Linked DNA regions of Homo sapiens: all the other regions are linked to region 2. Evidence: fine-mapped expression QTL. A gene starts in region 2. Each other region holds a variant in brackets. All regions are shown on one strand. Distances are from middle to middle. Region 1 overlaps CARMIL3 (capping protein regulator and myosin 1 linker 3). Region 2 holds the start of RIPK3 (receptor interacting serine/threonine kinase 3). Region 3 overlaps LOC124903291 (a long non-coding RNA gene).

Region 1 (2,500 bases), 280 kb before region 2:
GGCCTCGGTCTCACCCCCTATCCCTGAGTACACAGGCGGGCAGAGCTGTCTAGATGACTTCAGGTTCAGCTGAAGTATAAAGCAATGTCCATAGTTCATACCTGTGTGGCACTTTATCCAGGTCACAAGCTTGTGCTTGCTGTGCTTAAAAGCCAGCCCTTGCTCCCTTCCCCAGCTGTGCACCCTGGCTCCACCAGGGGAATGGATGCTTTTCCTAACTTGAACAAGGCACCTTAGGAGTCAGTGGTGGCCCTGGCTTTACACATCCACTGCCTGTGAGCAGCTTCATGCCCCTGGAAGCCAGGCAGGGAGTAGACCCATGTTCCACAGGGGAGAAAACAGAGACTTCAAGAATCTGAGTGGGCATCTCCAGTGGAGCTCACACAGGCTGACCACAGAGAATGAAGAGCCAGGAACCTCGATGGGGAGGGAGGGGGAGTCCTTTCCTGCCACCCCCTACCCCCTTCCAGCTCCCCTGAGACCCACCATATCTCCCCCCACAGCTTCTCGGTGCCCTGCTCCACGGCTGCTGCTCCCACCTCACCTACCTCAACCTGGCTCGCAACAGCTGCTCCCACAGGTGGGAGAGGAGGGGGAAGGGAGGACAGGGCAAGACATGGCCAACCCCCTCCCTCGCTGACCCCAGGGGTCTCTCCACAGGAAGGGTCGAGAGGCCCCGCCGGCCTTCAAGCAGTTCTTCAGCAGCGCCTACACACTGAGCCACGTCAATCTGTCGGCCACAAAGCTGCCCCTGGAGGCCCTCAGGTCGGGTGGGTGCAGGGTTGGGGGCGCATCCAAGGGAACCACGGGGAGCGGGAAGAGGTAAAGGAGGGCCTGCTGACCTCCCTCCCACAGGGCGCTGCTTCAGGGCCTCTCCCTCAACAGTCACCTCAGTGACCTGCACCTGGATCTCAGCAGCTGCGAGGTGAGCCCTCAGTCCCCAACCCCTCTGCCCGCCTCCGATCCATGTGCATTTCTCAGACCTAAGTCAAACCCTGGCTCCATCTAGCCTCTGTGCTGACCCTCTGCGACCCCCTGACCTGGCCACACCACCACTTTCCCCTCTCAGTCTGGCCTCTTTTCCAGAGGCCATTCATTCTCAGTCTCTAGTATCTCTGCCCTTAAAGCTTTGGGGTGGGAGATACCAGACTTTTCCACCAGAG[G/A]GCAGGAGCAAGCTGTCTTAGGAATAGCAGCCTTCCTGGCCGAAGGGAGGGAAGCCAGCTCTAGGGAAGGATCTGGTGTGGGGAAAGAGTCTCCCTGATTTTACACCCAGATCCTGGCATGACTTTGAGTTCTGGTGTGACTACTATATCCTAAGCATTAAAGGTGCCCTACCCCCACCCCAACCCCTGCCTTCCCTACCTCACCTTGTCCCTGCAGCTCCGTTCAGCGGGAGCCCAAGCCTTGCAGGAGCAGCTGGGAGCTGTCACCTGTGTAGGCAGCCTGGATCTGTCAGACAATGGTGAGTAGTGGTTCCTCCCTTCCCTGGGGCCAGGGGAGAACAGGGGCCTGGAGCATGCAGAAGCAGCCCTGATGGGACACCAGTCAGCCTCAGGCCTCCAGGCCAGGCCTCTCCCATCTGCTCACCAGGGTTCGACTCGGACCTCCTGACACTGGTGCCTGCACTTGGCAAGAACAAGTCCCTCAAGCACCTGTTTTTGGGCAAGAACTTCAATGTCAAGGCCAAGTGAGGCCCCCTTTCCATGCCCACAGACCCTCATCCCATCATTCACCCATCCTCTTGGCTCACCGTATTACCTCTGGCCACCTCTCTCCTCCTCCAATAGCATGACCCCAGCCCTTCCCCTCCTACTCTGAGCCCCGCCTCCCTGCAGGACCCTGGAGGAGATCCTCCACAAGCTGGTGCAGCTGATCCAGGAAGAGGACTGTGTGAGTGCCTGGGCCTGGGAGGGGACCTGCAGTCGGAGGAGGCTGTGGGGACTGGGTCCAACCGCCCCTTGCCCACACAGTCCCTGCAGTCACTGTCGGTGGCAGACTCCCGGCTGAAGCTTCGCACCAGCATCCTCATCAATGCCCTGGGCAGCAACACCTGCCTGGCCAAGGTGGATCTGAGCGGCAATGGCATGGAGGACATCGGGGCCAAGATGCTGTCTAAGGCCCTGCAGATAAACTCCTCCCTCAGGTGGGGCCCACACCGGGACCCCCTGACCTGGAGCCCCAGCCCCTCCCCATATGTACATAATCTCCCTGCTTTCCTTGATGCTCTGGACCCCAGCTTCCAGAAGACCCCCAGCCCCAGAACCATCTCTGAGTCAGCCTTATTGCCCCAAGAGGTTTGTGTCCCTGGCCCCTAGTAGGGACCCAGGAGGAGAGGTGCCAAACTGGTGCTTACCCTCCCCCCAGAACTATCCTATGGGATCGGAACAATACATCTGCCCTGGGCTTCCTGGACATCGCAAGGGCCCTGGAGAGGTGAGTAGACCATGGTCCTGCCCTGATCCAAGTCCCCAGCCTCCCTGTGCCTGGATCAGGCCTGAAC
Region 2 (2,500 bases):
TGGTGGAAATGACTCGTGTGGCTCAGGGCCTCTATCACCTGGTAGGCAGGAGCTAAAACTCCTGGCTGGGCTTTGTCCCCTGGCAGCCCTGTGTCCAGAGAGAGAGGCTACGCCTATTCAATAGACAGGGCTCTGGAGGTCTAGTGTCCGGCGGGCCTGGCTGGAGCAGCTCTGGGGCCTTGTCTTGAGGCTGAGAGGGGTGTAGACCAGCTGACCTTGACGTGCAGCTCTGGGTCCAGCAGGACGTTGGATGGCTTGAGGTCCCGGTGCAGGAGCACCGGGTTCTGGTCGTGCAGGTAAAACATCCCAAGCACCACTTCTTTCAGCAGGCGGCAAAGGAGCGGCCAGGGCCGAGGGCACTGGGACTGCAGCAGCCCCGACAAGGAGCCGTTCTCCATGAATTTAGTCACCAGAGCCGGCTTGGGATCTTGGTCCCAGTTCACCTTCTCGATAACCCCTTCTAGGCGCAGCACGAATTCGTTATCCAGACTTGCCATGGCCTTGACCTCCCTGGATATCGCCTTCCTACACTCCAGGAGAGAGCTGGAGTCGCACCGGGGTCGTGGGAAAATCCCTCCCTTCGCCATTCAGGCCCCAGAGCACAGTGGCTCCACCTTTTTGGCCAGATTGCGGCTGGGGTCAACCGGGGTCACTCACGAGTTTACGATCTTGACCGCCACATCGTAGCCCCACTTCCTATGTTGCGCCCGGAACACTGTGCCGAACCCGCCTTTGCCGACGAGCTCCTGGTTCTCCAGTTCCTCGATGGACACCAAGGGGGCGGGGGCACCGCTGGGCCTGAGAGAGGGGTGTCGCCCACTAGCCGGCCGTGCCGTGCCTCAGCGCTGCTCCCCGCGCCCCTGTGACTCGGCGTTCTCACTGCAATCCCCAGCCTCCCTCGCCGGCCCCCACCGTCCCCGGACTCAAAGACGTTCTCTGAGCGAGTCTGTGGGGCTCTCTGGGTGTGAATGTCGGAGGCTGCGATCGACATGCCACTCCCTACTCACCATAACTTGACGCACGACATCAGGCTGGAAGGTGCCAGGGGGCCTCTGGAAATTGCGAGCCGTAGGAGATGGAGTGACTTCTGGGGCTTGGTCCTTTCGCAGAGAGGGGAAGGGGTCTGTCTGTGCAGGGGTCAGTCTCTAGACCAAGACGGTGAGTCTACTTTCCGGGTTGTTACCCTTTTTCCGAGTTGACTGAACAACTTCCCTTATAGGCGCCTCTACAGTCCCGCCCCTGGGGTGGGGCAGGGGGCAGAGCGAAAGCTAGTGCCTTTCTCCTTGACTAGCGTTTCCTGAGCACCTGCCGCAGCCAGATTAGGTGTTGCTGGGCATTGAGGATGTTAGGGAAGGAGTCCTCACCTTCCAGGAACCCACAATCAACCCACTCCTACAGTCAAAGCCTTCCCTTTTCCCACAGGATTTCCTGCTCCACGACCTGCCAGGCCATGAGTGGAGATGGTGCTTAGGAGGGTTTTATGGTTCTAGGGCTCAGCTCTCTCACAGCTGCCCTAAGATCATAGCCAACACGTATATAAAACTTATCATGCACCAGGTATATATATTAGCTTATTTAATTCTCACACGAACCCTAAGGGGATAGGTACTGCTTTTATTACCTTTCTATAGGTGAGGAAACTGAGACACTGAGAGTTTAAGTACCTTGCCTAAGCCCATATGGAAATAATGGCTCTGAACCATCAAGTTATCCTGTTTTCACATAGGCTTCAGGGCTGTACCACTCAGCTGGTCGTGCAGGTGGCTGGGAAAGGTGTGAAGCATCCAACAATGTAGTGAAGGATCCCTATCTGTATTCCTGCCCAGTCCCTATAGCTGCTCTTGCGAGGCAAGTCTTTGGCATTGATAGGGACTTATATGCCCTTTGAACAGGAGCTCCTGGAGGTGGCAGGCCCCAAGCCCACTCCCAGGGCATTGTGGTAAGGCTAGATTTATCAGCCCATCCAGAGGGTTGGTGACATTGTGGTGTACACTACAGTGGAAACACCTCAGAGCTTTCCTGCCCTCTCCCTTGCATGACAACTCTTGCATGCAAATACCCTAATTAATGTTCCTGACAAGCACATGCTCTGGACACAGTCTTTTGATAACCCAGAAGCATGGAGAGTCTTAAAGATTTAGGGCAGAAAAAAGGTGTCCATATTTTACCTTTCTGAGGTCTGACCATGACTGGAGGTTGTGGGAACCCGATAGGGCCTGCCCTAGGCACTCAATCCTTCACAGGGATACTCAATCCTGTGGGTTGTGCGTTGGCTCTCACTAAAGGTGCTCACCTTGGTACTTGCTTTCCATTTTGTTCAGTGGTCCATGGGCTCTGCTGGTTGAGGCAGAAGTGATCTGTAGTTTTTTCTAAAACAACTCTTGGAGAGCCACACCATGGCTTCTAGCAGGGTCAGTTCATGCTATTTTGGAACTATTTAGGGAATTGTTCAACCGTAGTCTCCTTAAAAGCCAATACATGGCAGATACCCAATAAATAT
Region 3 (2,797 bases), 26 kb after region 2:
ATATAGTATATCTGTGTATATGACCTCAGGCAATCCACCTGCCTGCTTTGGCCTCCCAAAGTGCTGGGATTACAGGGGTGAGCCACTGCACCCGGCCTTTTAAAATTTATTTTTAGTAGAGACAAGGCTGGCCTCTTCTCTTCAATTACATTCTCTGTGGCTATACAGATGGTCTCAGTAGGATAATATCCCAGTTGCTCAGAGTGGTGACCTGTTCTGTAGCACACCCTTGGACTGGCTTTTCTTCTTTCCAGTTTCACTTTTTCCATTCTTCTCTTTCTGTTCCTTCTGATTGCTTTTCACTATAAACTACCTACATCCTGTTCTTGTCTCAGGCTCTACTTACTGGAGGAGCCAAGCCTGGGACAGATTCCTGTGTAAAATGTGATGGAATGAATTAGCAAACTTGACAAGGACCCAGGAGGCCTGGGTTCCAGATCAACTCTATTGCTAACCTGATTTGTAAAAGTCACTTTATCTACTGAAAAGGTGGGCATTTTCATCATCATTTTCAGATGGTACTATGGGAGAAGATCTTCCAACCATTTGTTAAGTGAGGAAAAAAAAAAGCAAGAAAAATGCTTGTCACGCGCATAAAAAGAGCATGTGTGTGTGCGTACATGTTAATAAAGGCATACAAAATGGTGGACCATCAAGGTTTACTACATATTTTTGTATAGCTTGAATTGTTTACAAGAAGAATGCATATTAATTAGCTTTATTTAGACCTCTGGGGAAAAGAGAAGACTGCATCTTGTGTAATTAAAAAAAGAAATAAATAACATCCACCTCCAAGGAAGTTGAATGATGCTTGTTAAAGTGCAGAGCAGAAGCCACCAACCAAGGTAAGAAAGCCGGGTTGTGCTCCGGTATGTGCGCTAGGAGGCAGCGGAGCTGAGACCGAGGCCAGGCGGCTAGAGAAACCGCGAACCAAGGACGGGGGGGCTGGGTCTTTCTGGTCGCCAGGGGGCAGAAGTGTAGGGCAACTTAAATCCGCAACTACCCGCTGTTGCCCAGGCTCCAACGCCAGGCCGAGCATTTCAGAAGTCATAAGTTCCATCTCTCTGCCGCAGCCGAGACAGATTGGAGGGTTTTCAGAGTCAAGGGGATGCCCCCCCGCCCCCCGCCTCAGAGAAGCTTGGCACTCTGAACAATCTCAACCACTCTCCCCTCTGCTCCTCCCTTCCCTACCCCCCAACACCCATGAAGGGGAAATTGAGTCATGGGAGGAGAGGCCAGAGTCATCAGGGGAATGAGGGCCGACGCCAGCCCTCAGGGCCTTCCAGATGCTAGGAGGAGGAGGGTTCTCCAGGAAAACAAACAGGGGTGAGAGGGGAAGGCGGTTGGCTGGGCAGGAGCTGAGCCAGACACATGGAGAAACGCTGCCCAGGATCAAAGGAAATATGACATTTGAAAAGAA[T/C]GTGTGCGTCTGCATGTGCTGTGCCTGCGGGGAGTGGGGCCGGGGAGGGGCAGAGTCTGGGGGAACAGGGGCTGGGCCTCGGGGTCTCTATCCCTGCTTTTCTCGCCTCCGCTTCCCACCTCCCTTGCCCTCTTAGGTACAGGCTGGTTGATGGGTCGAGGTGTTCCTCGTCCTCCCTCCCCGTGGGTTTCTCCTTCCTTTATTTCCGAGATGAAGCTGGAAGGGAAATGTAACCTGAGGAGACCAACCAAAGGAAAAAAAAGAAAAAAAAAAGAAAAAAAAAAAAAAGAAAGAAGAAAATCAAACCAGGCCGCTTCCCCGCTCGGCCTCGGAACATTCTTCTCTCCCCGCCGGCCTGGGCTCTTCTCCCCGCCCCTCCTGTGTTGCGGCCCTGGGCTCGGAGCCGGGGCAGCTCCGCACGTCACTGGGGTCCCCGGGGACTGGGGGGGTGGTCCCCTGGGCGGGCCCGAGGGAGGACCGAGGGGAGGGAGGGAAGCCGCCTCGGCCGCTGCGGAGCTCCGGCCCGTCGGGCCAGCCCTCCCTTCTTTCCCCAGTCCCGTAGAGCCTGTTTCTCATTAGAGTAACGGGCGCGGTCCCCGCCCGGCTTCTGAGTGTTTGTAAACGTCTGACCTGGGGCCGTCGCTTAACCGTTTAGTTGCTGGGATGGGGCGGCGTTGGGGGTGCGGCCCTGAACCGGAGGGATTTAGAGACTGGAGACGCGGCCTCTAAGAGAGGTTGAAACTGTGTGTGTGTGGGAGAAAATGATAACCACCCTCCCATCTCTCCTACCCGCCAGCCTCGCCAGTATCTCCCACCGAGTCACGAATCTCCCATCTAACTCCCTCTCACACAACCCAGGCCTCTCCAAGCCTGACTTTCCCGGAAACTCCAGTCCAGGTCTTCCTTCCTCCTCCAGCCCAGGTGACAGGTGTCCAGCCTGTTGGGGGCGGGGGGGCCAAGGAGGGGGAAGAGGAGGGGAACCCACAGGGTCCGGAGGTTTCAGGCCCCTAGTAAACCTGGCAAGGATTTTTAGAAGAGCCGGAGTGGGATGCTATCGGGTCAGAGATTCATTCCAGACTACAGTTCTAGGGAGGAGGCTGCCAACTTCCCGTGGAGGCTAATTCACGGCCCCTCTGGGTGGCTGGGACAAGGGCAGCGGCAAAGCCTGGCCTGGATCTACGCCCATCAAGGGCTGTGGGCCTAGGGACAGTTCTCAAAGCCTCTTTGGCTCGGACTGCTCCCAGAGGCATCCAGGCTGGCTAAGCGTTCTTCATCTTTGGGGGTCCTGGAGGAATGGCTGATGGAGGCGCTGATTCGGCAGCGCAAAGACTTCCAGAAGGCCCGGGCAGAGTAGCCCCAGGCAAGGGAGGCGGAAGA

The links. PIP is the estimated chance that this variant, and not a neighbour inherited with it, causes the effect.
Region 1: its variant is fine-mapped to the expression of RIPK3 in whole blood (TOPMed, PIP 0.96).
Region 3: its variant is fine-mapped to the expression of RIPK3 in fibroblasts (GTEx, PIP above 0.99).

The regions. Positions count from the first base shown.
Region 1 is chr14:24,057,300-24,059,799 of GRCh38, forward strand. It overlaps CARMIL3 (capping protein regulator and myosin 1 linker 3), which reads left to right. Exons shown (of 40, transcript NM_138360.4): 15 at 504-580; 16 at 661-765; 17 at 856-925; 18 at 1,381-1,462; 19 at 1,591-1,687; 20 at 1,836-1,890; 21 at 1,971-2,143; 22 at 2,365-2,433. Among named protein-coding and RNA genes, the nearest start is that of CARMIL3, 6.5 kb to the left of the region's middle. The variant G/A (reference allele first, on the strand shown) is at 1,164.
Region 2 is chr14:24,338,800-24,341,299 of GRCh38, forward strand. It overlaps RIPK3 (receptor interacting serine/threonine kinase 3), which reads right to left and starts at 1,192. Exons shown (of 10, transcript NM_006871.4): 1 at 1,008-1,192; 2 at 658-798; 3 at 216-525. The coding sequence starts at 1,027. RefSeq lists enhancers at 558-627, 858-1,057, 1,078-1,147.
Region 3 is chr14:24,364,874-24,367,670 of GRCh38, forward strand. LOC124903291 (a long non-coding RNA gene) reads right to left here. Exons shown (of 2, transcript XR_007064085.1): 2 at 643-1,654. It also overlaps a transcript of NFATC4 not described here. Among named protein-coding and RNA genes, the nearest start is that of NFATC4, 1.9 kb to the right of the region's middle. RefSeq lists a silencer at 1,742-2,051. The variant T/C (reference allele first, on the strand shown) is at 1,421.